3 separate regions of the Homo sapiens genome follow, and all the other regions are linked to region 2. The links come from fine-mapping of genetic effects on gene expression. A gene starts in region 2. Each other region holds a variant in brackets. All regions are shown on one strand. Distances are between the middles of the regions.

Region 1 (10,890 bases), 450 kb before region 2:
AGTGAGTATCAGAGAGGTTAATAACTGGGACATTTCAACTATACTTTCAAGAATCACATTTCTGCTTTTATTTCCTCCTTTTCACTTGTAAAATTTCGTTTCAATTATCTTTGAAGGAACATTCTTTACAATGGAAACTTTAAACTCCTTTTCACCATAAATCCTCACTTCTGTGATGAGACTGAGACACTGCAGAAACGACAGCGCTGACCCCTTACCTTTGCTTGTACAACACATAGTTTTAGGATCAGTTCCTTTGATTACTCTTTAGTGTGTTGGAGAGAACATTTCCACCTTTCAATATCTGTAAAAATGCAGAGTATTTGTCATTATCCCCTATTTAGCAGATAGCCTGTTTACACCAGTACTCAGCAAAATTATTTTAAATACAAATTTGTTTTGTTAAATAATTCATAACAATTTCTTACTCTTCATGGGTTTAAAATGATGTATAATAGTAAGGCAGATTTCTGAATAATTTAGGCCAATCTTCCTACCCTATTCTCCTACAAAAGTTTTTATGTCAGATTCTCTAAATTTGAACCAATATCTGCCTGATCTAAAATTTCCAAAATCAGAGAAATACTGAAGCTGGAAGGCACGGGGTCTAATGCCCTCATTTTGTAGATAAGGAAACCTGGACCTAAAAAGATTAAGTGGAGTGACAAAAATCACAAAACAAACTATTTAATAGAGATGGAACTAGGGTTAAATTCTTCTGACTCCCTGAAAAGACTTTTCAATACCAGTTGTCTCATTTACAGTTTACTTCTTTAGAGCTAATTTCTAGTTAAAAATTCAAACTCCTGGATGATATTTCTAAATCCCAGTTGCTTAGTTTTACACTTTAATTTGATAGCACAGTTTTTATATGTTCTTAATATGGTGTGATTCTACAGAGAAGGGAAATGGTTTTTTTATTGCTCTTACTGCTGCTTTTGTAGCACACACAAAAAAAGTCACAATATCAAAAATCTTCCAAAGCTTAGGTTTACTCTATTCAACTCTAATTTTAGTCCACAATTCTAACTTTGTGAAGGGCATGCATAGGCCCTTTCCATTCACTAAACGTTTCAGTGCTTGGGTTTGCTTCCCCAGACTTGCTCATTCATTCAGAGGTGACTCTCATTACCCGCATTTTGCAAGGGTCCCCTTGCAGCTTCCAATGTTACAGTCACATGGTACACATCAGATCAGCTCAGATTACAGAGTTAGGTACGGTTACGTTTACTTACTTCTCTTTGGTAAAACGCTAAAATGTCCCTGTCTGTTTATTATATTAGAAGATGGTTAAGTGCCTTTCCTGAATAAGAAGCCCTTATGTTCCACTTGGCTGTGAGTAACTTAAAAGTCTCTGGAGATGATCATGTCTGTTCTCAGAGGTTCTCCCTGCAGACTGATTGTGTAAAACAAATCTGCTTCTTCTCTGGACACACTTGGAAGTCTTTCCCCTCTCTTGTTCCCACTGATTTAAAAACCTGTTTCTCTGCTCCAGATCAGAAGAAAATGTTACTTTCCTAGTCAAAGATTTTGCATTGACCAAGGCTAATTAGATAGTCCAATTTATCTTTCAAAATTTGAAATCAAGTTTTATTCCCCTCAGCAACAATTTCCACCAATATGGTGTGACCATGTGATTTCCCCAGTAGACAAGCATATGAATAAAAGAAGAGCTGTTTAGAAATATCTTGATAGAAAACGAACTGTGAAATTCATAGCATATGTCTACGCCGTGGGAAACAACTGCTTCCAAAAGAAATGAGCCTAATTTTCTGACCCACTGGTGTGAGAGTGAGTGGACTTGGATCAAGTGCAAAGGAAGCCATCTGAGGATCTAGGGCCCCAGAGGAAGGGAACACGCTGAGGACCCTGCCCTTTGAACAGGTGAAGGCCCAGCTAACTTCTAGGCTCAGGACTAGGAGGAGATGGAATCATTATCGATGGTCAGATTGAAATAACTCTGGTTAAAATAGTCACATAATTGAAGCAGGATTCCAGTTTTAACATTGAATTATTGATTCATTCCTCCCTTCCTTCTCCATGTACAAACGCAGCCTAGCAATCTGAATTTGCAATTTAAAATACACTTTCTAAATGTCCGTCTGTCTCCCCTCCCCCTCTTTTTGTCTTTCCACAGCTTCAGCCAAAAAAAATAAAAATGGAATGGAATTTCTCAGAAACTATTAGGGAGCCAAAAAATATGCAAGATGCATTAGGGTTATGTCAGATCTAGGATCTAAGGAAAATAAGACATCCAGGAAATGTTTAAAAATCAGATCCCATCTAAGAGGACGCAGTCTTTGGATTGGCGCCTTCATGACCAGCAGGAATGATGCAGGAAGGATTATAGAGTCACTCATTCCCCAGTCAGATCTCACTTTTCCTGACGGCAAAATAAAACCGTGTCTCCACACAGCAGTAAAATTCATATTGCACTGATCAGTCGGGTTTTTATTGCTGATTAGGTTTCCTGAATAAAGAAAGTTCAGTAGTAGCCTTAATGAAAAAGCTTCCAATTTGATGGATGGGGAGAGTTTGAGCCTCATTTACTAGTACTATTTTGGTTAAGGTCTTCAAGATTTTACCAAATTGTCCTTGCAATAGTTTCAGCATATGCAACCGGCTGTTTTCCCAGCAAAAGAGCTATTGGCCTGGAAGCCCCACGAGCACTGCAGAGTGGCAAGTGGAAGGTCACAGACACTGCAGTGCACGGGAAAGTTCAGCAGGGCTGGACTGCAGCCTCATCTGTCCATGACCGCTGCACCATGCTGAGCAATTCACTTCATTTCACGGGCCCTACCTTCCTTCTCTGTAAAATGGGAAGTTGGCCAGGGGCCGTGGCTCATGCCTGTAATCCCAGCACTTTGGGAGGGTGGGGAGGCTAGAGTCCAGAAGTTCAAGACCAGCCTGGGCAACATAGTGAGATCCCCATCTCTACAAACAATTTTTTAAAAGTTAGCCGGGTATGGTGATGTGTGCCTGTAAGTCCCAGCTACTCGGGAGGCTGAGGCGGGAGGATTGCTTGAGGCTGGGAGGTTGAGGCTGCAGTGAGCCAAGATGGTGTGACTCCACTCCAGCCTAGGCGACCCCATCTCTTAAAAAAGAAAAATGCCAGGTGAAACCACTATGGCTCTAGCAACAGGAGAAAGCAAATGTTCTGATCACATTGAATCTGAGTTGTTTCCTGAGGACACTTCAGCCAAAATAACCACAATAAAAATAGCGTAGCATAAGGAGTTTCTACAGTAACAAGGGTAAAATAGCCAGAAGAAGTTCCTGTCAGATTTCTTGCACATTCCTCTGTTTGTTTTCATGGGAAAAGCTATATTTTTACATAGAAGCAGCAATATAATTTGCTATTGAGATACCAAGGTTCATATGTTTGTTCATAGATTGTTTATTATAAAAAAAAAATGTAAAGCCTGTTCACTCTAATCTGTGTGTGGTGGGGGAAGTTGGGGGCGAGGCAAGGACTCTCAATAGTGCCTTTCAAGTGAGCTCCGAAATAGCAGGGAACGATGCCTGGCACAGAGTAGGGCTCAACAGTGTTTACTGAAGAATACATTCATATACCGAAGAGCATCATGTTATTCATAACTTTGTTAGCAACTGATTGCATGACAAACAAAATGGGAAACATTAAAATATTTTAAATGTTATATAATTTATTTTTTGAAATGACTGAAAAAGAAAATAAATGAAAAAAAGGGGAATTTTTGCCACGTCGTGGATGAAATAGGCTTTTAAAGTGATAGTCAGAGCCTGACTTTTTTTCTATGATACAATATATTACAAGTTAAAAAAATGACATAGCTGCAAATTACTGAAAGACAGTCCGTCTGCAAGAGGAGCACAGCTCGCAGATAGAAACCACTGGGCCATGGAGAACTCCTCAGGCAACTTTTAGCAAATTACCTGCTGGCATTTTCTACAACATACGGCTGCAAGGCAGATGCGGAAAGTCTGCACTTTCCCTTCAGGCTGGAAGAGACGTCCGTCCTCTCATGCGCACGTGGGGTTGCAGGTAGGGCATAGAGGGTGGGCACCAGGAAGGACGCCATGGGAGACAGCCTGGGGACCCCTTTTCTTTTTCCTCGGGAGCAACTGCCCCATGTAAACCTCTCCCCTCTGTCCCTCATTTCTCCTCCCTTCTCCCTCTGTCTTAAATACTGGCTTAAGTGGGAAGTGTGGACAGCAGCCCCTGACCCGGCTGGCACCGAGGACATGGTCAGAGAGCAGCCACCTTCCAGAAAGCCCTGTTCCACCGGGCGCTGGCTGCTCCGCAGAGAGCCAGCCACGGGCGGCAGCCACGGGCGGAGTGGACGGCCCTGGACCCCGAGACGGGGGCAGAGCACCTTCCCGGCCCCGCCAGCCTCTTCCATGACCCCTCTGTCCTGACTCCTCCGTGACCGATACAAGACACTCAGGTGCCAGTCCCAGGAAAATCCGCTTCCTCCAAGCACCAGGGCTCCAGGCTCCCAATCACTCTCTTCTCTTTCTTCGTTATAAACAATTCGCTTCAGGGATCCCGTCAGTCCGTTATGTGTTCACGTGATACAGTGATTTGCCCGTGAGGATGTGACAGCCCACAGATGTTTGTATACTGAAGGACATCTGGTGTTCTCATTCGTAATATGTGGGGGATGCTGCTTCTGAGCAGGGGATTTTATGGCACCAGAGTCTCTGATGTCTTCAAACTATTCAGTAGGAAATAAAA[C/T]ATAATGAAATAAATTAACTGATTTATGTTTTTTAATCTTTACCCAATGGAGAGGTAGGGTTCTAATTTCTAATTTTTCGTAACAGACTGAAATTCAAAAAGGTTGAGCAACTTACTCAGATCTACATAACTCCATATTCCAAATATTATACATTTTGTACTTCATCACATAAGAATTTTCAGTAATATTCAGAATAATTAATTTTGAAAGCAAATGCAGAGTCTTTTCTATGTATGATGTTAGGACACAGGATCATCATACCTAAAATAGCAGGTGCTTGTAAGCTAGAAAGACCTGAGATTGGATATCAGCCCACCTGTTCTGAGACTAAGGGAAAGGCCTTCAAGCCTTCTGAGAATCATTCTCATCTGTGTGACGAGGGATTATGAATGTTTACCTGAATAGCTGTATTTAAATACTCCAACGAGTAGAAATAATCCTTGTTTAATGTTTCATATTTTTGAGAAGAAGAAAAATGGCCTGTTCTTTGGGAACTTATGTTTTTAAAAAATTACTAAAAGATACTAACAACTGTTATCATAAGTGCCTGTTTATTATATCTTCATTTTAAAAATATATATCAATCATAATGGTAGAATAATTTCAAAAATCTCTCTTGGAAACCCAAAACATACCAGTCTGGTGTTAAGACAAAAAAATGGAATGTTCTCCCAAATGAGAAAAGTAACTTCTTATTCTTGTGCAATGAAAAGAAAAAATTAAAAAAAAAAAAAGAAAATTAACTTCATAGGTTTTCACATAGAATGCAAACCCAGGGGTAATGCTGAAGAGACTCTGAGTGCTTCAGGGTTACGTGGAGGCTCGTCTTTCAGCCTCTGCAAGGAAATACTGGAGACACACAATAGGCAGGTCCTTCATGACCGAAAACCTTGCCTTCAGCTTTGCTTCCTTTCCACCCATCCCCTAGTGGCAGCAATTTATGGAACTGTCCAATACATAGAACTTCTGAACCATAAATAGAATTCACCAGAAGGAGCTTAACTATTTAAATGAAGATCATAATTCCCTCCCAGAGACATCATACATTTAAAAATCCATTCCATATAGCACGTTTAAAAAAATTTTAGAGACGAGTGTCTCACTGTGTTGCCCAGGCTGAACTCGAGCTCCTGGGCTCAAGCCACCGCCCTGCCTCAACCTTTTCAGTAGCTGGGACTGCAGGGATGTGCCTGGCCACACGTATTTTCGAGCTCCTTGTATGTGCACAATTTTTGGTGGCCATTAGAGAAGATGCAAAAATGATTAAGTGAAGGCAAGTTCCGGGAATTGACGTGGGATGGGAATGGCAGCCTAGCACACAGTGCCGTCAGCCTGGAGTGGGTGGTATAGCAGCTCCCCTCTTCGGCAGTTTCACTTGCTGGCCTTTCAGTTATTGGCAGGCAACCGAGAGTGAGATCACATGTGCATAACTTTTATTACATTATATTGTTATAATTGTTCTATTTATTATTTTATTGTTAAACCTTATCCTAGGTATGTATGTATACAAGAAGATATAGTATGTATAGGTTTGATACTATCTGCAGTTTTAGGAATGCACGAGGGGTCTTGGGACCTATTCCCCAAGGATAATGGGGATAACTATATAAACAAGTAGCATGGGATGGTAGAGGTAGGAGCATTGCTGCCTGGGCCACTTAGAAAAGGCTTTGGAGAAAATGACATTTGAGAATATATAGAGAATGGGAGGAAGGTATAATTCAGACATAGAGAGCAATGTGAGCACAAGGGAAGTGTAAATATGAATGATGCTCTGAGCAACAGCAGCAGGTTTTCTAGTTTGACTAGAGCAAGGAATACATGGTAGCAAGAGGTATCATTGTGTTAGGCAGAGTAAGGTCCCCCATTTGTGTCCATGGGCCAGACCTGGAACCTATGAAAATGTTATGTTTCATAAGGGGAAGTAGAGTTGCTATAAGCTAACCCAAATATAGGGAGATTATCTGGGCAGCCTAGCATAATCAGGACGGTCCTTGTAAGTAGAAGAAGGAGGCAGAAGAAGCCAGAGAGATGTGATGTGAGAAGGACTGACCTGCATTGCTGGCTTTGACAATGGAAGAAGGGGCCCCAAGCCGGGGAATGCAGGCAGCCCCGGAGGAGCAGGAGAAGACCAGGAAATGGATTTTTTTCTCAAGACTCCAGAATGACATGCAGCCCTGAGAACACCTTGATTTCAGCCCAGTGAGACCCACATCATGTGTTTGAGCTACAGAACCACAAGATCCTGATCCACATCACATGTCCGAGCTACCAAACTGCAAGATTGCGATCTGTGTTGTTTTAAGCCACTGAGTGTGTAGTCGTTTGTTACAGCAGCCACAGGAAACTACCAGAGAGGAGAGTGGAAAGCTTTACCGGGCAAGACTGGGAGGGCTCAGGTGCATCGCAGCGACGTCTGGACTTTATTCTAAGAATGTAATGCGTGAAAAGGGAATCACACGATGGATTCTGTGCTTGGAAAGCTGAATTTGCAGGCAACGTGGAGAGTACCCTGGAGGAGAGAGTGAGGCTGAAGGATGGAGGAGCACTGAGGGGGTTGTTGCAATGACAAAAGGCACTGAGTTGGTGCCATCGGTCTAGAGATAGAAATAGATCTAAAGACATAGTCATAAAACAGGGTGTCGAGCTAGTGCCACAGATGTCACATGCCTATTTCATATGTCCAGTGTCGTAGAGCTGGAGGTTCAAGGAAAGTCTCGGTAGCCAATTTGAAGGCTGGTATAGGCCTATTTCGCAAAGCTCAGAAACCAGAACCAATTCAGTTTCTCTAAAACACTAACCAATTTGTCTCCCTTTTCAGGTTTTATTATTGATAGCATTCAGATCATGTTTTCAGTCATTCATGACTATGTTTTAAAATTTCTCCCAAGATAAAAAAATCATGCAAAATAGCAACTTAAGAAAAGATTGGTTTGGTCAGGGCGTGGTGGCACATGCCTGTAATCCCAGCACTTTGGGAGGCCGAGATGGGTGGATCACAAGGTCAGGAGTTTGAGACCAGCCTGGCCAATATGGTGAAACCTCGTCTCTACTAAATATACAAAAATTAGCCAGGCATGGTGACAGGTGCCTGTAGTCCCAGCTACTCGGGAGGCTGAGGCAGGAGAATTGCTTGAACCTGGGAGGCGAAGGTTGCAGTGAGCCAAGATAGTGCCATTGCACTCCAGCCTGGGCAACAGAGCGAGACTCCATCTCAAAAAAAAAGAAAAAAGAAAAAAGAAAAGATTGGTTTGGCAATGCAGTCTTCTGTAACTCAACAATATAACACAGATGGCTGGACTCAGAAACCTAGGGGTCCAGCCATACTGCATAGAACTCAGAGGACAACCGGAGAATTTCATGTGTGATCACTTTCTCAGCCACAGCCCAGCCGGATTTGTATCAATACGACTAGATATCTTATTTATCTGAATAAACCCCATTCCTGCAAAGTATTTGGAAATAAGAAATCGACCCCTTTTATATTAGTTGCTTTCACTCACTCATCTGGAAAAAAAAAAAATGGACAATGGCTAAAGGCCAGGCCTTTGCTTGCTGGGCATGGGCGGTAGCACTTCCCTGCCCTGCATGTGCTGAGACTCTCGGGGAGGCCATGAGAGAGTGCATTTTTAGAGGGTGTGTAATAGAGGCGTGCACTAGGCACAGGAAAAGCACAGAGCCCAAAACTCAGGCTGGAGAATTAGCAAAGGCTTCTTGGAGGAGATTGGTTTTGAAGGCTGTATGGGAACCGCTAAGACAGAAGGGAGGGCAGACAGAACGCAGAAGAAGATAGAGAAAATAAAGAACAGTGGAGCAATATGACGTTTGTCCATCAGCCTATCCCGCCACTGAAAGTTCCCCCTGGGAATCTGGCACTGTCTCTCCTCCTCCACCCCTCCCACTTCCCTCAGGGTGATCAACACAATGATAAGAACACAGTAAGCCCAGCTGAGACTTTCACCAGGACAGTAAACTGGGCACACATATTTATGGCCCTTCCTACTAAAAAAAAAAAATTTAAACAACAGTTTTAACGTACCACATGGAGTCAATTAAGACAAAATAAAAATTGCAAGAACTTGCAGGATGACATCAGCAGGCTGAAGATTTTTTAAATTCTGGAAGTGCCCACGAATCAGATCAATATAGCTCAGCACACAAGAGGAAGGAGTACGGTTGCTCAAGCGAGACTGCGTGGGTTAGGACCTGGATCTGCCACTCACAAGCTGTGTGACTTTAGACAACTTACCTAACCTCTCTGTGCGTCAGTTTCCTCATCTGTACAATGGGAATGATAGTAAGGCCTATTGGCTAGGATTTTCATGAGGATTAAATCCAATGATTCATCTAAACTGCTTTGAATAGCGTCTGCTACATTGTAAGCACTGGATCCCTACTTTCTATTATTATTTTTACATTAGTGAACAAGTTAGAACAGAGCGAGCTACCACTCAGAAAATGCTGGAGGAAGCTGCAGTGCAAGGAGCTGTGTTACCCGAACCAGGCGTACACATTTGAAGGGACAGCTGCAGGTCAGCAGACACTTAAGGAACAGCAGTACAGCAGTAACACAAACGAGAAGAACCACGGGAGAGAAACAGAACAACCCCACTGCAGGAAACACAGCTAATTGAGGGAAAAGAGGAGACCATTAAAATAATGCCAGCAGTAACCTCAAAGAGACTCAACAAGAGGAGATCAACTCTGACAGACACACAAGAAAACCGTACTAGGCTTCTATAAAAAGAAGCAGTAAACACTTTTTTAAAGATTATGGAAATTAAAGAATAAATAAAAGTATGTGAAATAAAAGTAAAGGAAATGCCCCAAAGGAAAGAAGAGAACAAGAAAAATTTTAGAGTTTAGAATATCATTGCAAGGAAACACATCCAATAGGAATTAAAGAGAAAGAGAACAAAAATGATGGGAAGCAATAATCAAAGTAATAGCTGTAAAAAAGATATGCATCTTGAGATAAAATGCGTTTGTCAATCACTGAATAAGATGAAAATTTAATTCAACTTGGAGATCAAGAGTGTGAGATTAATTTTACAGAACAGAGCATAACTGCCATTAATCGTCAAAATTTAAAGTCAAAACAGCAGAAGCTGGAAGACAAAGCAGAGCCCAAAATTTCTTTCTTTACTGAGCAAGAGGACAAGGCATATTTCTAAATTCCATAGGTCAAAAATAGAGTTAAGTATATATTATATGATGTTATAAATATAACTAATATATAAACTTGAATTTTTAAAATGTTCTGTAAGAAACTGTAAGGAGGAAAGAATAGGAACTAAATTTCCCATCTGTTATAGCATGTAGCTGATGTTTAATGCTGGTCAACCAGGAAACAAGTGAAAGCATAATATTGAATTAGGGCTTATAGCCACCAAAAAAATTAAAATTAAAAAAATGGTGAAAGGAATTACATCTAGAAAGAAGGACTTGGAGATGGAAATGGAAAGAAATTTAGCATTTCAGTTTGTAACCTTCTCCACGATTGAAATTGTTGATACTCTCCATGAGGAATCAGTTTTAGAATAAATAAACAAATATGCATGTGTCTAAACATATGCTTCCAAATTGAATTGAAAATACCTAGTATTATAAATTCCAGTTGCGGTTGCAATGTGATAACACAGCCAGCCATGCTTCTCTGTGGAGGACGAGATAGTAAATATTTTAGGCTCTTCGGGCCAGGCTGTGTCTGACAAGCCCTCAGCTCTGCTGTGCAATGTGAAATCGGCCGTTTAGAGAAAGCGTCATAAGTGGGCACAAGTGTGTTCCAATAAAATTTCATTTCTGGACACAGAACTTATATTTCAGATAATTTCTGTGTGTCAAGGAATATCATTCTTCTGATTTTCTTTTACTGATTGAAAAATGGAAAACCCAGTCTTAGTTCATGAGCCATACAAAAATAGGCAGTGGGCTGGACCTGCCTCATGCACCACAGTTTGCTCTGAAGAGATGACAGGAGGGAGTCCTTTGCCTGCCCAGCGGGCTCCCCACATCCCTCCTCTGGGACTACGCCCTTTTCAATGAGGAAAGTGTTCCCCAGACCTATGCTGGGGCTGATGGACCACTTCTCTCTAGCAGCAATAGAGGAGAGACAGCAGCCTGCCCCATCAGTAAACCCCAGGCCCCTGCCCCAGTTCTTGATTTAGACACG
Region 2 (10,890 bases):
TCCGGAGAAGAGCTGTATTTGAATGCAAAGGGTAAAATAATTCCAAGGTGCAGGGGAAGTGGAGAGGGCTGATATTTCCTCTCACCTCCAGGAAGGGGAGGCCGCAATGGGCACACAGGCAGATGAGAAAGCAGTGAAAGCAGCAGAGAGGGTGGGATGCCAGGAGTCAGTCAAGCCTACTTAGAAGTATTTGGTCCTAGGGCTATTCCAAAAAATGTCTCAGAATTGTTTCCTGCTTTAAATCTATGATTTCCCCTGGTTTTATGAGTCAGCAAAGACGGAAAACAACTAAAAGGCCATGTTAATATTTCTTAATCACTAAACACACCTACCTCATTAAATCTTGGGTCTTACATATTTTCACCCAGCATATTGTTGGTACTTGATAAATATTTGCTGAATGAATGAATCCTTCCATGATTCTGGGTCCTCCCTTATACTTCAGAGGTGACTCAGTATTGGACACACTGAAATTTTAATGCTTGATGTAGCCTTCCATAAAATAGCAGTGTTTTTAAAGGTCTAGACCAAGGTGTCCAGTGGAACTCTGTCATGACGAAAATGTTCTTTGATCTGCTGCGATCAATACAATTGTCACTAGCCACACATGGTCACTGAAACTCGGAATGCAGCTGGTGAGACTCAGGAAGTGCCTTTTAATTTAGTTTAACTGGAAGTAGCCACAGGGGGCAAGTGGCTGCCCACTACATTAGCACAGCTCTAGAGGTTCTGTTAAAAGTTTTCTGCCCATCTCACTTTGAAAACCAGCTATTTTGACTAATATCATCAATTGTTATTCATAAGTTCCTGTCATTTGTGATTTTTATCTTTTTTAAGTAATTTGGTTTATTTATTACAACTTTAAAGTGAGTATAGCAAACCAAATGGACTTCAGCGAGAAGCCTCTCGGGGTGAATTTATTGTGAATCATTTTGAGGACTTGCAATATGTGGTCAATTTCTAATTTCAACTATTGACACAAAAGGAGAGAGCCTGTGTAGTTGAAACAGGGAAGCAGGAGAAGTCCGCTGGGCACTGACAGACTGGCCTCTCAAGCCAGCCTCCTCCCTCCTTAGGAATCTGGCACCCTCTAGCTGCCCTCGGGGTCTGCAGGAGCTCTAAAATCCCTTCCTATATCCCTCCGTGTCCTAGCTCCCTGGATCCTCTCCTCCCTTCCAAATCAAAATGTACCTTGAGGGAGAGGCTTGGGCAGGAGGATCTCTTGAGCCCAGGAGACCTGACTTGAGTCTGGAGACCTGCCTGGCAGAATCTCCAATCAGTGGTGATGATGCTGATTTTATGGATTAAAAACTGAGACACTGCCAAGAAGTGAGGGAAGGGAGCGGGGGAGGGCAGGAAAACTAATATTGTTTAAGTACCTACTATGTGCGTGCTAGACACTTCATATGATGCTCAGTAAAAATGCTTTGCCTGCATGAATAACTGTTATCTCCCTGGCAAGTAGAGTGCAGTATGTTTTTTTTTTGAATGGATAAACACATGAATACATTTTTACCACATGAAGCAGATATTAGTCCCATATCACAGATGAGGACACTGACATTTAGACAAGTTATGACTTCAAGGCTAAACACACACAACATTCCAATCACCTAATCTTGTTCTCTCCTTACTGTTTAGCTCCCTGCCCAGTTTCCTCTGTGCTCAGAATTTTGCTCTTGACCTTTGTAAAAGAACGACCAGCTAAACTGATCAACATATTTATACCAACGGATGCAAATATGATAGAACCGCCCCCAGCCCCCTTTTGCAAGGATCTTGAATGTTAATGACAATCTTCTGGGGACAATGTCAACTCACAGAAATGGCTCCCTCGGAATTTCACGCTGTTCGGGGAGGTATTTTGGTACTTTAGTGGCATTAAAAATATATTCCACAGCAGATATTTTCCTGGAGGCTGGACACTTACATAAAGACGACGCATTCTTTATAAATTAAACCTCAACAGTGTTTGCATTTATCTAAATGGATATTATTTCGAGGAGGAGACAGTGATTTGCGTATTAGCCCCTATCACTAGGGATGACTTGTAAGACACATTAGGAACTGGCTCCTCCCCTATCCCTTCGCCCCCTCCTCTCAGAACCTTATAAGCTTCAGAGTACGGTCAAGACAAGAGGAGCATTGGGAAAGAATTTGAAAATAAAAATACAGCTCCGTGATTTTCAACACAAAGACCACGAAGAGCATAATAATAAGTCGTGAAAAAAAATTCACATCCAGAAGTTGGAGGGCCACAAAGTACAAGTCGTCCAGGCCAGTCTGCAGAGACTGTTCATGCTTCCGCCCAGCAAAAATCTGGCAGGCGACACATCGCGACGAATTTCGGCTGCAGAAGAGGAAGAGCATCACCTGCAGTCCGCGGCGTGGGAAACGCCGCCGGAGGGGCTCCGCGAGCCGGGGAAGTGCGCGCAGCGGGGCTCCAGGCGGCTCCAGGCGCTGAGTGCGAGGAACGCCCGCGCTCGCCGGCGCCCGGGAGACGCAGCCGAAGGAGGAGGGCGGGCGTTTCACCCGCGCCACAGCTGCGGCCGGCCAGAGAGACCGCAGAGGCCGGGACCCCCGCAGCCTCCACGGCCGCTGCTGCCACTGTCGGGGTGGCGCGCCCAGCCGGAGAATCCCGTCCGCGCCCGGGGCGGGGGGCGAGGCGGGGCGCTGACGTCACCTCCCCTCCCCCACCGCCTCCAAGGGGGAGGGAGTGGGGAAAGAGGCAGCGAGTCGCCGCAGCCGGCGGCCGCAACTCCTCAACTCGGCGGCTGGCTGCCTGGGCACGTCCTGACAAACTTGGCTGCTCCCGGGCCCTCGTTCCGGCCCCGCGCACTCTCTTTTCGCCTGCGTTTGGTGCTTAAGTTTGCCCTGGTCGGAAGCCTCCGGAGATGCGGCCGCCTGGGTCCCGGCGGCACGGACGTTGGCACTCTGGTTAGGGACATGCTGAAGATCCCGGGGAGGCAAAGTTGGTACTTCAAACCCGGCTCTTAACACATATCTACACCGCGAGGGGATCACGGAGCTGCCGAGGACTTTAGAGCCCAGGGCCGAGGACTCGGCTAGACTGGTGAGTTCTTTGTTCAAATCGTGCATGCCTTTTGGCATTTAAGTTTAAACGTTAATGAAATTACGTGGGGTGTGTGGCTCTAAGCGAGTGCGGGGAAGCGTGTGCGCCCTACGGGTTCTCGGCTCCAGGAGCTGCGCATCCCTCTGGCTTTGTGCGGATCGGCGATGAAAGATTCGTATGCATAGCTTTGGGAGTTCATAAAATACATATAGAGCACTGTTAAAAAGAACTTGAGAGGCGATGCTGTTTGTGCATTATTTTGAATGTAACTTATTATAGCAATGGTGCCTAGGGAGGGCGCATCGGGGCCGCGAGATTTGCAGGGGCGCAGCGCCCTCTAGTCCGGGCACCTGGCGAGGCGCGCTCCTTGCAGGGTTCTGTGCGGAGGCGAACCTGGACCTCCCCGGCGCTCGGCGACGTGGGCGCTTGCTCACCCCAGTCTTCACTGACCACCCACCCGGGCCCATTCTTTATATGAGTTACAAAAATCAGCTTGGGTGGACTGGATGTAGAGGCCGTGCTGGAGGAAAGCGTTTTGTTTCTGGAACCGTCTCCCCAACCCCCTCCCTAATTTCCACGAGCCTTTGGGGACAGGGTTAGGGAGGGTCGATTATTTAAAGGACAAATGTGGAACTTGAACCACATTTCTCTCTCTCATATAAAATAATTCGATTTGTGGTAGCTAATAGGCATGTCCATTTCGTTCTGTTGGCGCTTAAGGATCAGTAGAATCGTGGCAGAGTCCTAAGTCTGAAATCTCCATCCCTGGCTCTCGGCGGCTCCTGTGGCGACGAAGTGCAACTTCTTCCAGGCAGATAGATTTCTCAGGGAGCCTGGAAAATCGGGATTCCCAGACAGATGTAAAACATCTAGTAAGCCCTAGGAAGCGTTATTACTTATTAATTAATGGTAATCTTCTCCAGGAATTCTCTTGTGCCATTTAAAAAAAATCCCGTGATTTTACGTCAGGGAATGGTATCTTTGTACTTTTTTTACTGTTCTTCTTTTCCCCTTTTAGCATTACTCCCGCTTCCTCGCTCCCAGGAAACGGCTGGAGTTCCGGTGTGTTTGGGTTTTGCTGAGATTTACAATTCGGCAAGCGGCACAAGCCGGTTGGGCTTGGAGATCAGGTCACCCACTTTCGAGGTGTTCCATGTATGAAATTGACCTGTAAGCACTTGGAGCAATTATGGCCGGGACAAACACGTCTTTGGATGATGGAGTTTGCATTTGCTGGATGTGTGAATCTATGTGTATTCCAACTGGTGGGCAGGGAATATAGGGCTACGAATCGGCACACTCATCTTGCAGGCATTATTTTTCCTTCCCAGCCACAACCTGCTAGACACCTTTATTATTATTATTTTTTCCGGTCACCTCTAAGATGGCTTATAAGGTGACTGCGTTAACTTTGAACCCAGGAAATTCTCTTTCACACTTGACTGCCCTGCCGTTCCCCTCCCCGCCAAGCTCCCCTCACCAGTCCCAGGGAAATCGGATCTCTTTGTCTTCCCAGTGTTAAAATGCCTGAGTCCCACAAACTTTCCGAGATCAAGTCCGCCCTCTTGTCCGGGCTGCGTCCCAGCGCCTCCGGCCCTCCGGGCTTCGGCCGAGTCCGCCCTGCGCCGAGCCTGCGGCTGGAGCCCTGCCCGCACCGGGGATGGGCTCCGCGCCCGGGACGCTCAGGCTGGGCGCCCGGCGCGGGGAGTTCTCGGAGCGGGCTTCTCGGCGCTGGGGCTTCCCCTCTGCCTAGGAACTTGCAGTTGTCGGCCTGGGGTCACGCTTTGGGGCCCCTGGGGCCGACTCCCGGGCTAGGAAGCCCGCGGGACGCCGCGACTGCCTTTTGTCCCACAGGCCTGGGCGTCCGGGGTGTCAGCGGGGGAGGCCAGGCGCCCGCGGCGGGGAGGGCCTGGGGTCTAACTCGGCAGAAAAAGGTCGCGGGGGAAGCGTTTCCATTTTCTGGGGATTGAAGGAGGAAGTAGATTCCGACCTAGCTGCATTCCTTTGGAGACCTGAAGGACGACTTCAGCCCACCAAACCTTCGCGGACCCAGAGCCGCGCCATTCAAATGCAGATTCAGGGGCTCCCAGAAGGCTATGGAAAAGCTAAAGGGATGCCTCTGGGAAGCTTTCTCATTAGGCCCCAGCCTTTTTTTTTTTTTTTTTTTTTTAGCTAAGCTAACGTTTCCCTTTCTTGGCAGGGAGCTTTCCCCAATTCCTTGCACAGCGCCTGTGGCTGGCCGTAACTAACCTCGGCATCACAAGCCTCGCCCTGCCCCTCGGAGCCGCGCTAGACCCCGCTGGGCGCCTTCTCGTCTCCCAGCACGGACCTGGTGTTCGCAGGGACTGGGGCTCTTTGGGTCCGGGCGGGACTGCGTGGCCGAGCCCGCGGTCCCAGAGCCGGCAGCCGGGGAAAGTGGGCTCGAGTTTCCGCGCCCGAGAAATGAGCGCCGGCGCCGGCGGGCGGGGCCGGGGCGGAGGGATCTCCTGCGCTCGGGGAGCGTGAGGCGCCGGCGCCGAGCTGGGCGGCCGGGCGCGGGGAGAGGGCGCGGGAGCGGCTCGTGCGGCAGGTACCATGCGGACGCGCGAGCCCGGCGAGGGCCCCGGCAGGCCCGGTCCCTGCTCGGGGGCGCGCTGAGACGGCGGGTGAGCTCCACGAGAGCGCCGTCGCCACTTCGGGCCAACTTTGCGGTTAGTTCGCTGGGGCGCGGGCCGGCGGGCGGGGGCGAGAGCGTGCAGCGCGCTGCGGTGCGGACTCTGTGGGTGTCCGCCCGGTCCCCGGCTCGGGCTCCGGCGCTGCCGAAAACGGATGAGCGCGCGACTTCCCGGAGGGTGGAGTGACTCGGTCCTTCCCAGTTGGGAAATTCAGCACTGGCTAGGGGGGTCCCGGCGGCGGAGCGGGAAAAGGAGGCGACCGCGCGGGACCGATCCGGGGCCATTGCTGGGGTCCGATCCTTTCTGACACGCCGCCTTCCCTCCGGGAGCTCGCCGGGCTGCGCCGGCCTCGCGGTCTCCTGGGGCATCCCGCCGTCTGCGAAAGACCCGCTCGCTGAGCGGTGCACGCGGGAGGCCTGCGCGGGGCTGCCGGGTCCCTGGGTCTCTGGGTGTTTGCGCCCTGCAGGAGCGCTGCCCGGAGGTGCAGATGCAACCGGTGGACTGCGGAGTGAAGGGCTGCGAGGCTGCATTTCGGGGCTGAACATCTGCACAATGTGCGGTTTGTCAGTGTTTTCTGTCTTCTCTGGAGGAGGAACTTCTAAGATCTTTTTAAAAGAAAGAGTTTTTGGTCCTTCATTGCCTTTAAAAAAAAATGCTTTCTTTTAGAGAGCCAGCTTTCTGCTGTGTGTTAGATTTTTTTGTTCCCGCTGATGTGAATTGCAAGGCTTTGGAAACAAGGACGCAATTGTATGAGTTAGGAAAGTAAACTCATAAATATTTTCTATGCAGTTAAGTTTTTTTTTTTGTCTGAACTGTGGTTTCATTAAGTGGCTTTTGTTAAGCAATTCCCGGGTGCCTGATAGAGGCGATTTTTTAAAAGTGGATATTAACAGTGATTATTAGTATGAGAAAAGATTGAAAAGAAAATGACCTTCAGATATTCATTTCCTTTTCAAAAGCAGATTCTTAATGCTTCGTATATTCAGATACAGGTTTCGATAGTTTAAGAAGGTATCTGTGTGTGAGAACTAGGTAATGGTGATGTTTTTCACACTATTCTTAATGAGTTTGGTTATGCTGTCCAACACATCCAGTTGTTACAGGGACGTTTGAAAAGGTGTTTCTCCAGTTAATAGTTAATTGTGATATTTGTCTTTGTCTTTTTGTCTTAGGAAGACAGCTCTGATTCCACAGTTAGAATTATTCCTTTGTATTTAAGATGTAAAAATACTTAAAGCACTATGTAATTTTTTAAAACAACAATTGGTATAAGCCTTGAGTGATGCTAAACATGGCATTTAACAAGCTCAAGGTAAGGTTTGATTTGAATGAAGTTTGCATTTGTATAACCATTTTTTGAAAAATGAACACCTTAAATGAGCCAAATTCTTTGGCACTCTGGAAAGAAGTGTGGTTGTTAGAGGACTTTATAAAATCATTTCGGGCCACCTGTATATTCATTTGTCTCTTTTGAAGTATCCCCGTTGGGTTCTCATCATGTTAGTAGATCATTTAAATCCATGGTCCGGACAGGTGCCAACAGAAAAATGTTTAAAAATTATGGCCGGGCGTAGTGCCTCACGCCTGTAAACCCAGCCCTATGGGAGGTCGAGGCGGGCGGATCACCGGAGGTCGGGGGTCCGAGACCAACCTGACCAACATGGAGAAACCCCGTCTCTACTAAAAATACAAAATTAGCGGAGTGTGGTGGTGCATGCCTGTAATCCCAGCTACTTGGGAGGCTGAGGCAGGAGAATCGCTTCAACCCGGGAGGCGGAGGTTGTGGTAAGCCGAGATCGTGCCATTGCAATTCAGCCTGGGGAAAAAAAAGAAAAGAAAAAGAAGAGAAGAAAAATCTTTAAAAATTATGCACAAACTAATTCTGTTTTCATTCCCCTGATCATCCTCTACCTTTCCATTGCCTTTAGACTTTGCTTTGAGGTCCCTTTGAAGCAGTCGTTTCTTTGAATGTTAGAGGTGGATAGGATCTTAGAGATTATGTTTTAACACTTTACCCGCTTGCTTTCCACCCAAGTTTGGCTGATTTTACGTAGAATCAATCAGCCAAATCAAATTAGTACATTATTATTGCATTAGATTCTGTCTCAGTGGCATAATTTGTAGCCTAAAGGACCTGATTTAATAGCAGGGAGCCGTAAGGCTGGATGTGCTGTTTAATCTTTATGAGTGGGATTTGCGCTAGATAATTGTTCTTTTGACCAAATTATGTAGAAGTTGAAGCCAAACTCTATCTTTTGGTCTCACTTAATTGTTCAGTTTGCAAGTGCTTATTTATCCTTAGACACTGGAGAAGAGTTTTTGAAATGAGTGATATACATCAGTTAAGATCAGGAAGTTGCCATTTTCTCATACCTGAGGGGAACTTTTCATTTCAAAAATATATTCTGATGAGGAATCTGCATATTTCACTCTTTTAAGTTTTTTAAGTCATCTTTTACTGTAAGTCCCAGATTTAAATACATTGCCTGAATTCTTGCTTAATTCCAAGGGTTCATTATGTATGTGAAGATAAGTCTATAAAGTAAAAATAATAAAGGCTTCTATACACTGCTTAGGAAATATTAGTCATGATTTAATCTGTATCCTTCATAGAATATTAAGGTTAGAGCTTTGTGATAATCTGCAACACAGACACTGATCTGGCATTATCTATAGCCAATTTTGAGGCAGCGTAAGGTGGGTGGTGACCTCTTTCTGAGCTATTGGAAATGAGTCCTCTACAGAGCAGCCACCTGCAGTGTTGTTACCAGCCTCGTGGTTGTGCCTGGATTTTCTGTTAATTTGAGAAGGATGGATGTTTTATTTTCCTATGTTATCCCTCTCTATATCCCCTCCCCAACACAGTCCTGCCTCACATTTCTCACTCTTAACGCTTTATTCATCTGTCCATTTACCAATCCAACAATAGTGGACCTCCTCTGTGTCAAACATTGGGCCAGACACAACATCTAGTGCTGAACAAATCGTGTTTCCTGCCCTCAAGCAGCTCGTAGTCTGATAAGGGAGAGGACAAGTACACAGTCTCTTATAGACCAGTGTGATAAGAGATCCATTCAGGTCAAGGTGGTCCATAGCAGCACCTCAGTGAGCTGGGGGATCTGGGGCAGGTGGATTTAGGATAATGTGAGTTCTGAGGGAAGTGTGAATCAGAGGGGAACAATTCAAGCAGAGGAAATGATGTGTGCAAAGCAAGTTATAGAAAGCATAGTGTGGCTTGTGGTGTGATGAGTGGAGAGAAATTCTGAAGACCTCACCGTACCATGTTATCTTAGGAAAAGGATTGGCTTCTTTTTTTTGTCTAGGTAGAACATAGAGAATCTTGACTATGACTTAAATAATCTTATTAAAAAAGGGAGGATTGTTTTTATGAGGCAGAGGTTAAGGAGAGAGAAAAAGAAAGAAACGTTGAAGAGAAAGGTGAAAACAAATAAGCTGTATGTGAGGAGTGGAGGGCAGGAAACAAAGAAAATAGTAATGTTTGCATTATCTTTCGGAAGGGAAGAGGTCAAGATGTTACATTACTTTAGAGCCTTCACCACTAGGTGGTGTTATTGGCTCAAGACAGCTTGGTTACTGAACTTGTTGCAAGTCTGGGAAGTATGCCTTTTTGTTTTGAAATAAGAAGTAGTGTTGGGAAATTAGGAAATTAGTTAGAGGTTAGATTATCAAAGGTCTTTAATGCAAGGTTAAGAATCATATACTTAGCAGGCTAAGGGGAAATACTGAATATTTTCAAGCTAAAGAATAATATCACAAAGAAGTTTGAATAGGTTGACTGGGATTGGGGGCAGAAAGCAGGAATACCAAAAGACTGTAGGAATACTCTGCATGAACAAAATACCCATTCTAACTAGGTGGTAGCAGCAGAAATGCAAAGGGAACCATTTTGAGAAATTGAGAAAGAAATGTCAAGTTTGGATAACTTTTGAGAAATGAAGGTTTGAGAGCCAGGAGGCTGTAAAGATTTTAGTCCATCCTTCAATTTCTCGAATACATAGAGTCGAAAGGATTAAGCAAGTTCCTTGAATTCACACAGTTGATTAGTGACAAAGCTGGAGCTAGGTTCCACATTTGATGTTCTCCCAACCCCTTCCTTTTTGTTTGATTTGTTAGTTTGCAAACTTGGTTGATTTGGGAAGTGGTGAGATTGGAAAATAACTGGAAGAGCTGTTATTTTGCAATGGCGAAAGGGTGAAAAGTCTATATAGTTGTCCCTTGGTCTCTAAGGGAGGTTTGGGATTTTATACCCAAATCTGAGAATGCTCAAGTCCCTGATATAAAATGGGGTACTATTTATATTTTTACTGTTTTATTGTTTATTTTAAAGACGTTCTCAACCTGAGGTTGGTTGGATCCATGGATGCAGAACTCTTATATAGTGAAGGCCAATCGTATAACTTAGGTTTGATGGTATTTTAGGAGGAATGTTACGAGGTGTTTGAGAGAGGTTAGAGCTGAAATTGCAGATTTGGTGCACTGATCCTTCATGATTTGAGGCAGAGTAGATGAGATCTTTAAGGGTGGTAATAAATGCATGTGGAGGAAGAGTTGGAAGACAAGTTTGTAATGCCAGAGTTGTAGGTGAGTCAGTGTAGAGTATAAAAGAGTATGGAAGAGAATCAGGAGAATGTTGTCATTCATTTTTCATACCTGTGGATTGCCTCTTTGTTTTGGGGGACTCTGTGACCGAATGAAGGATCAGGAGTGTTGGGGAGGGGAGTGAGTGGTGTCAAAGGTGTCATGAAATCAAGGAGGATGAGCACTGAGAAAAGGTCATTGGTTTGACATTAGCTTGTGATGCGGGAACGGCTGTTCTGCCAGGGTGGACCTGCAGGATCTCTGTGGAGCAGCGTTTGGCGGAGAGGGAGTTCTAAGGAAGCCAGGGCGGTGCTGTGAAACTCCTTTTCTTGCGATCTTTGCCAGTATAAAAAAAGAGAAGAATAAGAGTGTTTGTTTGAAAGAAGCAAAGGTTTGAATGAAGTTTATTTTATTTTATTTTATTTTATTTTTTTGAGACGGAGTCTGGCTCTGTCGCCCAGGCTGGAGTGCAGTGGCGCAATCTCGGCTCACTGCAAGCTCCGCCTCCCGGGTTCAAGCGATTCTCCTGCTTCAGCCTCCTGAGTAGCTGGGACTACAGGTGCA
Region 3 (10,890 bases), 190 kb before region 2:
CCACATAGTTGGAAGTAACCAGGGTTTTCTTCACCTATAGAAAAATCAGCTAATTGGATTTGTCATTGCATGTCATAAGCACAAGATTTAAATACAAACTGGAAAGAAACACGTTCAATTGATAAATAGCAGAAATCACTTTTGAGAGTGATTATATGGGAAGCAGTTATAAGTTTCATTTTTTGGCCTAGAAACTTAAATTTTTACATGGAATAAACTGGGCATAAATCATATATTAAAGTAAAAAGGTTTATCCTAGTGGCTGATTTAAAAAACATTAATTTGAACTCAACTTATTAAATTTACTTACAATTTAAAGTGGATAATTCAGATAATTATCTGGAAAGTAGAATTTTGTTGAAAACATCCTCACACTGAAGTAAAGGTATTAGCAGATTTGATTTATTTCCACCCTTCTTCATCTTCCTCTTTATCATTGTCATCATCTTCTTTTGCTTTGGTAAATACAATGAAATTACTATACTTCCAACTCCATAGTGTAAAAACTCATAGCACCCTCTCTCTGGCAACATACAAACATAAGCTCTAATCCTAGTACGAACCAAATACATAACCTTCATAAGAGTGTTCTTCAAGATAGAATATTAGTAAGTTGGCTACATTTTTGTACACTTTCTACATATACTTTGATTGGAAATAATTAATCCTAAAAAATATACAAAACTGCACAACCTATAGGATGTTTTTACAGAGAACTTTAAAATTCCACAGTCATAAGGTGAAAATCTCACCTCCAAAGGAATTATTCCTTTGGGTGTACCTGGAAGACAAAGTTAAATGAAGAATTGTTGGAGTTTATTACATGACATTATCAAGTCTAGAAGTACAATATAGGGTAAAATATGAAGTAACTGATTCTTAAAAGTTCTTTCTCAGCCAGGCGCAGTGGCTCACGCCTGTAATCCCAGCACTTTGGGAGGCCGAGGCAGGCAGATCACCTGAGGTCAGGAGTTCGAGACCTGCCTGGCCAACATGGTGAAACCCCGTCTCTACTAAAAATACAAAAAGTAGTCAGGCGTGGTGCAGGTGTCTATAGTCCCAGCTACTTGGGAGGCTGAGACAGGAGAATTGCTTGAACCTGAAAGGCAGAGGTTGCAGTGAGCCGAGATCATGCCACTGCACTCTAGTCTGGGGGACAGAGTGAGACTCCATCTCAGAAAAAAAAAAAAAAAAGTTATTTCTTTATTCTGAAGTCCAGTCTCACAGCAGTAGGAAGTATATGCTTGACTCTGGTGAATCGCGTTCCTATATTTAATGGTCTGCCAAAATGTGAAATCAGGAAGGAATTTTTCCTGAGAGCACTTTAGAGTAGACATTGGGTAGTTCCAATTTTTTTTCCCGCTGCTCTGAGTTAGGATCTGTGAATGGGGATTGATGTTAGTGAAGACTCAAATCAATATGAAGAGGCGATTGTCTGCATCGTCCTTCCTGTCCAGCTCTGTGCCTCCCTCTAAGACATAGCATGTGCAATATCATTTCATCTGCAAGCTCCTCAGTGGGTGAATGAGTGTTCACTAAGTTATAGCTTCCTCGGTGCTGGAAAATTGGTGTCACATGCTTTGTAGAAGCTGGTAGTTAGACCATGAGGACCTGCTGTGCTTACAGAGGCTGTGTAAAGAAAGTAGAATGTAACAAAAGGAAGGAAAGGTAGCAAAAGGAGCTGGAAATTGCATGATAGCCTGCAACTTCTTTTCCTAGTCCAGACTACTGTGAAATATATATTAAAACTGAACTTCTTGGGGGAAGCTGTCTAGCATAAAATTTAAGGTCTTCAAATTAAAGAATTGTCCAGAAGATGATTTTGTAAAAATAAAGAGAAACTAGTAATGTAATTTGAAATTATTATAAGGTTAAAGCATAAACAAATACACAACAAAAGTGGGAAGTCCCTGAGTATTCTATTGTTTTTCTGTTCCGTTAAAAGTACTAACAGAAAAAATTACAAATGTGTTTGCAAGTGTATAAAAATCTGACAAGATAAATATTTCATACTAATAGTCAGTCTTATTTGCCTATAAATATATATATATATATATATATATATATATATAATCTCAAAAGCAAATCAAACATATTATTTTATAAATTTTTGTTTAAATCCAAGGTTCAAAATTTACTGTAGGGAAGAAAAAGTAGTATCTTTTCCTTACCCATTGTAAGGTTCATGACTGAGACCCCTGTAACAAAACACAGATCAACAACAGAAACACGTAAAAAACGTATCTAACCAAAGTTGTATGTTACAGGGACACCTTCAGAAGTAAAGACCCAGAGACCCAGGGAAAACTGTATTTTTATGCTTAGGTTTGATGGAGAATAGACGGCCTGTAGGAGGATGACGGAACAAATAGTGGGTATGAGCAAACAGTCATTAACTGGGGGGTTTAGCAAGGGCTATTTATTCAGATTCCTCTTGGCCTCTGAGGATAGGGCAGGACCCATCTGGAGTGAGGGTCTTATCGGCCTTCTTCCAGGGGACGTAGGTCAGAGAACTCTCTTCATGGCCTCAGAGGAGAAAGGCAGGAGAAGGTAAGAGAGTGACCTTCCTAGAATCTGGGGTTTCTCATTATCCTTCAGCTTAAAACACTCAGGATCCCAAGGTGCCATATTTTGGGGAAGCATTTCCTGCACTCGATCACTACAAACCAAGGAAAGTAGTATAACTTTTTCAAAGTCATTTATTCCCTACCCTAAAATGTATCTCTTGCTGACAGTATTCGTGATGCATGTCATTTTTCCTTGATTTTATAACAAAAGAAAATAAACTTATGAATCTTAACAGATTAATTCTCATATTTACAGATGACTACATTTTATGATTTCTTCTTGTGTAGGAAAACCATTCCTTGAGAAGCTGGATGATGTTATGAAGTTCCTAGAAGCCGTAAGATGCTTAACCTTTTGGACCTCTGTGCATGTGCACATAAGTTGATACTTAAAACCAACAAACCTGAACAGAGCTGCCTTTTAAAAATGGCTTCAGAGTAGTTTGAGTGATTTCAGTGATGCAATTTTACCTGAATTCATCAGGGATGAAAATCAATGGCTGATACAGCACATCTGGTGTTGTTTCCTGTTAGTTGCTCACACGGTCTGGAGTCCCTGAGGATCCATACTGCGGCACATAACAAAAAGCAATTGCTGGATTGATTGATATTTCAATACGTTGACTTTTATGAAGGTGAGTTAGACTTCACAATAAAAAGGGGCATATTGTTTTGTCTATTTCTTAAGATATTTATGTTCCCACTCGAAATGTAAATAATCCCTATGATTGTTTGATGGGATGAAGCAAGCCAGCACAAATCTGGGTTAATTGTACTATCAGATTTCTATTATAGCTCAAAAGAAAAGCATTTAAATCATCAAAGTTTTGAAACCTTCCGATGAATGTCCGTGTAAAAATTGTTTTTAAAGCCCAACAAAATGTGCCTTTTATTTTTGCATTTCACTACAAAGTGCAATGTAATATAGCATTAACTAAATTGTGGTCCAGATGAAACCAGAGCTGTCTTTCAGGGTCTCATCACATTTCTTTCCATGTGAATTGTAAAATGAAAGGCCTTTGCCCGGGCATGTCCTCTGTGGACTCTTCCTGCAGCTGGATCATTTCATCATTAGACAAAAATGAATACACACTTTCTCAGTGATCCATAGTACTTTACAGTTGTTGTTGCTTTTAATTCTCAGATTTGAATTTTCTATGGATATAATTTCCAACTATTTTAGCCATGGCTCTACACTGAGCTGCTTCCAATATAGCACTTAATCAGAGCTAGTTCTAACTCAGAGAATAGATTCTAAGAAAATAAACTTACCGAGCTGAGGAAGGAGAGAAATTAACTGCATTCCATTTCAGAATGTGACAGGCATCATGAAAAGAATTCCCCCCTCACAGATGTATATTTTCCTTATCTGTTCTGCACTTGTTCCGTACACTAACACTAACAAATGGAAACCATGTGGTTATGAATCCATTATCTATGGTATATTTTTATTGTGGATGATTCCTTAATGTAACCAAAATGTCAGAGTCTAGTAAAATCAGATTTGACGATATATACAGAATGTGATTGTTAGGAATCTTTTAAAACATTTCTGAGTGTTTTTTAAAGTAAATTTCCTAGCATTCTTGGAAACACAGTATTGTTTTCAAACTCTGAGAAAAATCCCTTTAGAAGATTTCTAAAATGCCAGAAAAACAGGGGTATCTTGAAGCACCTACGCTAGTTGATCTCCCTCTCTGAGCAGTTTTTGCCTCTTCCTGCTTTGTTTCAGTTTGAACTGTGATGAAAAGTGATTTTAACATTTGACATCCTGGTGTATTTCCTTTTATAAATAGTAAAAGTCATGTAAATTGTTTTGTTTAACCTTTCTGTTTGGACCACCAAGAATCTGAGAAAACGCGGAAGTCCACCTTTAATTACGCTTAAGACATCGCGGCACACACATCTGCATCATTACTTTGCACGGCCTGCATAGCTACGTCCCTGCCGCCTCCTAACGCCACCCGAACCTTCTTTTGTAACTGCGAGCCCCTCTCTCCCTCTTTCTCGCTGTTCCCGCAGGATCCCCTGCGGCATTCCCAAAGACCCAGTACAATGTCTGTACATGATCTCCTTTTGGAAAGAGACTATTTGCTATTCGTGACCCATTCCTGTGTTGCTTCCACACCCTACCTCACCCCAACCCACTGAATCATGTGCAGCGCGGGGCAGGCCTGGGCAGAGCGGCTGGCGCCTGCCTCTCGCTGACATTCGGGAGGTTCCGGGTCTCCAAAGCCCCCTAGAACTTGGCCGCAAAGGCCTGGTTCACGCCCTGGGCGTGTACGGTATGTGACGCCAGCAAACCTAGATCTCAAA[T/C]TGATACAATATTGGGCTTCCTACCAATACAGGAGACTCTATACTTTCAGCCTAAACTTAAAAGAAACATCCTTTGAACTAAGAAAAAACATAATTAAGTCACCCCTCTTAACACTAGGGACAACCTCCCACGTTTCGGGTCCTCTAGCTGCCTGTTTGTTCCCTGCTCCAGTAGAGAATGAGACACTTGCTCCCCTCTGCTTGGTTCCCTGGCCATCTCCCATCATCCAGAAGTGCCATCCTCATTCCCGTACTTCCAGCCCCTCCTCGCATCCCGTAAGTCTACACATCTTAGAGGTGCAGCTGAAGGAGTGTGTTCTTATTAACATATACTGCTTACCAAGGACAAGCACAAGAGAAAAGGTGACTTGGAGAATAACAAAGAGATCTAATGTGACTGAAAGAATAATTCTTTTTTAGAATAAAATTTCTAAAAAGAGAAGAGACTAGTAATGCCAAAAGATGACAGTGCGTGACCTTGTGCATACATTTCCTTTTATTTCCTCCAAGGGCCCTTATCACAGACCATAACTAATATCACCCCCACTAGGGAAGAGTTTTCCATTGGGCAAATATCACTATAAAACTCGAATGCTTTTATGCCTCTCTAACCAAAACCTTAAGGGTGGAAGAACTTGGTCTACTGTGACCTCATCATAACACTTTACAACGACTTCAACCAGGCCTCCTTTGAACCAATACATCTGAGCTCTGCTAGAGAAAGTTTATGTTGTTGTTCTTGGTTTCCTTGGTGTTGTTTTGCATTTGTGGTGGCCAGCATGCTTTGCCTCCCTACTCCATTTACAGAGTTACATAAATTTTGATTCTGCCACTTACAGCATCATCTCAAATATGTGAGGAGGGAGGCAAGAGACCTCATTTCTTGGATCCTCATTGGCCTTCCGTAAATTAAATAAATTAATAATAACTATTAATTGAGTGGTACTTATTAAAAGAGTGAGGATTTAAAAAATAATAAATAAAATGTTTAGGGCAGTATTTGCTACATAGCAAGGATTCAATAAATCTCAGTTACAACTCCCATTCAATAATAAAAGTCCTTTTCGTTTCTTTGTTTCTGCTGTGTCCAGTCATTGGCCACCCTTCTCTTTACTTTCGCTTTCTGTTTACATTACCTCCCTAAATGTGATTTTTAGAAAAATAAGATAACCTGTAGTCCCAGCTACTTAGGAGGCTGAGGCAGGAGAATGGCGTGAACCCAGGAGGCGGAGGTTGCAGTGAACCGAGATCGTGCCACTGCACTCCGGCCTGGGCGACACAGCGAGACTCTGTCTCAAAAAAAAAAAAAAAAAAAAGAAAAATAAGATAAGATGCGTATTCTTATCTCCCTTCTTGGTCTCATCTCTCTTGCTTGTGGAATGAAGAAAGGACAAAATTACTGTGCCACATTGACTTCCCAGGACACATCACAAACTTTCAAAAGTCCATGCTTTTGTACATCCTGTAAACCTCTCTTTGGATGAAATCCCCCGCCTGTTTTGTGTGTTTGCCAAATTCTTGTATATCCAAGAAGGTGAGGTCCAATGCAGTATCCAGTGTGAAGCCTTGCCTGGTTTCCCAAGGCCCAGTGAGCAGTATTGTCCTTGGTGCTCCCATAGATAGAGCTCAGAGTTGCCACCTCTCTGCCACATGCAATGGGTCTCTTATGTGCCTCTTTCTCTCATGATACGCTGAGCTCCTTGAAGACAGGAACTATGAACTATGGGTTCTTTAGTTGATGTCTGTACTTTCTAACACATGGATGCTCATAACTCAATAGATATTGAGTGTCTATTATGTGTTACTCAATATATTGAGTATACTCAATAAATACTTTGATACTCAATTAAAATATTTTGAATACATGAGAGTCTTCTACCTGCTTTGGAAAGAGGACAAATTATTCATAAAAGCACACAAAGGTGGCACTTTGGGGCAGCAGAATGCATAGAAAAGTTGAAAGAAGAAAAGAGAAAAATAGGAAAAGCAAAGCAAATGATGCAGGAAGTATACCACACAGAGGGATCCTTTCATTTCTTCTGTGTTCATTGATTTATTTTGACAAAAAGTGCTAGAGCCAGATTTCATAAAAGCTTTCCCTTTGAGCTCTACCATGCTTTATAAACAAACTTAGCTTGTTATGACATACAGCTATTCCCAGACAACTCCTCACCATCACTTAGAATCTTCATCATTGGCAAGATTAAGATTCTAAGATCAGATCTTACAGAATTTTTAATCCAACCAAATCATAACTATTTACTATAATTCTTAAATTTCTGTCTGAACAAAACTATCAATAGCTTTTACAAATTCCACCATGATACAAAGTTAAAGGTCGTTTTCTTATTAAAAAGTATGGACATGTTCATAGACATGTTCATATTTTATTCACGATAAAATATAAGGGCTAAAAATTGGAACAGATTGTTAAAACTACTGTAAATTGTTTTACTATGAATCTTTAAATTCCCATGTAATTAATTACGTTAAAATTATGCTATTAGACATAAATTACTTCAGAGATAACTGTAAAATACAAGATAACAATAAAATTTACAAAATTATTACCAGAAGTAAATTTGATAGCTATGACTAAATTACAGGCAGCTCTAATTCAAGCTTTGCTATCAGCAACTTACTGTATGATGATATAAAGTCACAGATGGGTGTCTCTGATCATGGGCTATTTCAGGAGGTGACAAGGTCTCTGACAGGCTTCTTCCCAGCTCACACTTGCTAGGAAATAGGTCTTACTCTGAGGACTGATAGCCGATTTATTCTCAAAAGTCTGTGTTTAATCCCCTAAATCCTTCCTCCAGAGTATATGGGATATCCTCTCATTCTTTCCCTATTGTAGAAGTCTTTATTTTAAGAAAAGAATTATTCTATGCCAAAAAATAGGAAATACAGAGAAAGAGATATTTCTGAAGGCTCCACAATTTTAAACCACAAAATTAAGTAAGGGACAGAGGGTCCCCTTTAGTTGGTTTATTCCTATCTTTGGCACAAGCAGCAGTTCTCAAACTTAGTATGCTAGAAACTTCTAAAGAAAAATAATCTAAAAAAACTTTTAAGTTATCTTTTAAAAAGATAAGAAAAGTATTGTAGAATTATTGAAATCTGCAAATGTAAACCAATTTCAATTACTGTTGGAATCTATTTTGAAAATAACATCTGAAATTAGTTTTTAATTCTTGCAGACATTAAAAAGAATGTCTAGTCCAGCAACAATTTCACCATCAAATCACTGAGGGAAATGAATAAATGCTAGTTATCGTTCATTCATATAATCCATAGATAATCTGAGCATGAGTCAAAATTTCTGGCCATTGCTTACTTTTGTCTTTAACTTGGAATATTCAGCCTGCTATGGAAACCTCATGCTCCATGACACCTGCCTGGCTTTCATTTGGTGTGACGGCATTCTTTACGAATTAGGTCAACTTGAATTATTTTCTTACTAGCTCATTAAGAATGAAGGTACTTCTAACTGCCAATTTTAATCCCAAAGAGGAGTTTACTTTTGTCTCGTCAACTACAAAAAGAATTTCCCATCAGGATAATGGTGGACCCTCATGGCTATTGTTATTTCATGCCACTTCAAAAGCAACCAGCATGCTTCCCAGCACAGCAAAAGCTACATGCTCTCATGTTAGCACCAGGTCAGTTTTAAACACAAACCCAGAAGCAGGTTGGAAATGCGGCTCAGTTATAAAGCGGCCATCAAGATCATGCAAAATATGCTTCTGCTAATTTGCTTAGGGTAACATCAAAACAAAAACATTGAAAAATGCTGGTAGAGAACTCTCAGATCCCAAAGAACACATCTAGGGAACTGCTGAAAATCTCCTTGAAAAGCACTGAATTAGAGGATCGAACACTCTTTCTTGGATCCTGGAGACCTGCCTAAGTCAAGTTCCTAGACATTCTCTAATTTGAAAGTCAGGTATTCTCAATAGGGTCATCATCGTAAGTGCATGCACTCAATGAAAATACCACTTTTTTCTGAGTGTGTGCTGTGAACAAGACAGATAAAGCCACCTACAACAGGAAGTCATGTAACAACGAAGTTCAAGGGACATTTACCAATGATGACCAGAGATGTGAGCGTGGAAGAGAAGCACACTGAGGTATCCCTGCAGCAAAGACGGCCACAGCAAAGACTTCCAGTGTTCAGCAGGACAGTGGGTTTGAGTAAACAACAGCTTCTACTAGCATAATAAAGGCCAGCAGATGAAAGATTTCTGGCAGGTAGGATCAGAATTTGCAGAAGAAAATCCTAGTAACATGCCCCACCTACCAAGGAAGACCTCAGATCTGCCTTGCACTGATGGCATGAACATAATTGGCTGCAAAATATAACACTGTCCTCTAGATGTCTCAAAACTGGTGTCTAGCTTTTAAACAATCTCCTAAATACCTGCAATGTCAGGGAAATCTGCTGAAAAGCAATTTAGTTAATTTAGAGAGTTTAACATAGTTAGAAATATTTATTTTTATAATAGGTGTCATCTTAAAAGTATAAACTAACAGCTCCTTCATTAGGATGTTTGTGTCCTGCGTGTCACTAATTTCTCACAGTGATGCTATGAGGTCATTGTTATTCCCAGTTTCTGGATGAAAAAACTGAGACTTAAAGAGGTTAAGTCAACCAAGGCGGTTTTCATCATAGCTATTAGTGAGTACTAAACTAGATAGTATACATATTACCCATTATAGAGCAGACACCTTCTTAAAATATAAACAGAAATTGTATTTTGTGCCCATTAAGTTCAAACTCTTCAGGTCAGTCCTTTCCTCCACTTCACAGCATGTCATACATGATATATGAAGTGCAACAGCTCTTTCCTCTTTTGTCCTATTTTTCTGTACCCACATATTTTCCTCCAGTTCATGCAAACATATTTATGGTGTACATTAGGGAAAAGATAACCTAACAGAAAACTTTTTTTTTTTTTCTTGAGACAGAGTCTTGCTCTTTCGCGCAAGCTGGAGTGCAGTGATGCCATTGCAGCTTACTGTAGCCTCAAACTCCTGGGATCAAGTGATTCTCTCATCTTGGCCTCCCTAGTAGCTGGGACTACAGACATACACCATCACACCTGGCTGATTTTTAATTTATTTTATTTGTTGAGACGGAGTCTTACTCTATCACCTAGGCTAGAGTGCAGTGGCGCTATCTCAGCTCACGGCAGCCTTAACCCCCCAGGCTCAAGCAATCCTCCCACCTCAGCCTCCCGAGTAGCTGGGATTACAGGCATGTGCCACCGCACTGGCTAATTTTTGTATTTTTAGTAGAGATGAGGTTTCATCATATTGCCCAGGCTGGTCTCGAACTCCTGACCTCAAACAATCATCCCACCTCAGCCTCCTCAAAGTGCTGGATGACAGGTGTGAGCCACTGCACCCACCCAGAAGACTTTTAAGGAAATAATTCACCAGCACTTTTACAAAAGATGAACATGGGCTTCTCAGGAAGTACAGGTGCAAACACAGCCCTGTGGTTTGTAGAAAGTCACCTGATGCAAGCAACAAACAAGAAAAACAAGTGAGCAGGCCAGGGGCAATATGAGGCCCCTTGTGTGGCCCTGGAGATTTCATCTCACATCAGACACCCTGTTTGTTCCCTTCCACGTGGAGTTCTTGGTATAAGGAGTCCCACAAGGAGACGGAACTTGACAACTGAGGGTGCTTTCTAGGGTATTTCTTAAAGAAAAAAATATGTAGCTTGTGGATATTTCTGTTAAAAAGTAGTTTTGAGGTCTGAATTCCCCAGATAATCACGTTCGTTCTGCCATCCTTTTTCTGTAGGCAAGTCCAAACTGCTTTATCATTTCACTGTATTAACTTTAGAGGAAAACACCAGATGAATAATTTGGTGATATTTTCATGTAGGTAGTTTGGTCAAACCTCGCTGACAAATACATAGTGCTTTAAGCAGCACAGTGCATGAAATAGTTCTTTGAAATGAATTGATATCTGTCCTTGATTGTCTTCATCTTGC

Which allele goes with the higher level. Alleles are on the strand shown, and positions count from the first base shown. SD is a standard deviation of normalised expression in the study named. Not every link is listed here.
As copies of T replace C in region 1, the expression in fibroblasts of the gene that starts at base 5,571 in region 2 goes down (small effect, 0.17 SD a copy in GTEx).

The links.
Region 1: its variant is fine-mapped to the expression of FAT1 in fibroblasts (GTEx, PIP 0.97).
Region 3: its variant is fine-mapped to the expression of FAT1 in sun-exposed skin (GTEx, PIP 0.96).

The regions. Positions count from the first base shown.
Region 1 is chr4:187,170,142-187,181,031 of GRCh38, reverse strand. No RefSeq gene overlaps it. Among named protein-coding and RNA genes, the nearest start is that of LINC02374, 26 kb to the left of the region's middle. The variant C/T (reference allele first, on the strand shown) is at 4,718.
Region 2 is chr4:186,718,537-186,729,426 of GRCh38, reverse strand. FAT1 (FAT atypical cadherin 1) reads left to right here and starts at 5,571. Exons shown (of 27, transcript NM_005245.4): 1 at 5,571-5,763. RefSeq lists enhancers at 2,445-2,946, 4,129-5,128, 5,629-6,130.
Region 3 is chr4:186,913,404-186,924,293 of GRCh38, reverse strand. All of the region lies in intron 1 of LOC102723906 (a long non-coding RNA gene), which reads right to left. Among named protein-coding and RNA genes, the nearest start is that of FAT1, 190 kb to the right of the region's middle. RefSeq lists an enhancer at 2,905-4,104. The variant T/C (reference allele first, on the strand shown) is at 4,884.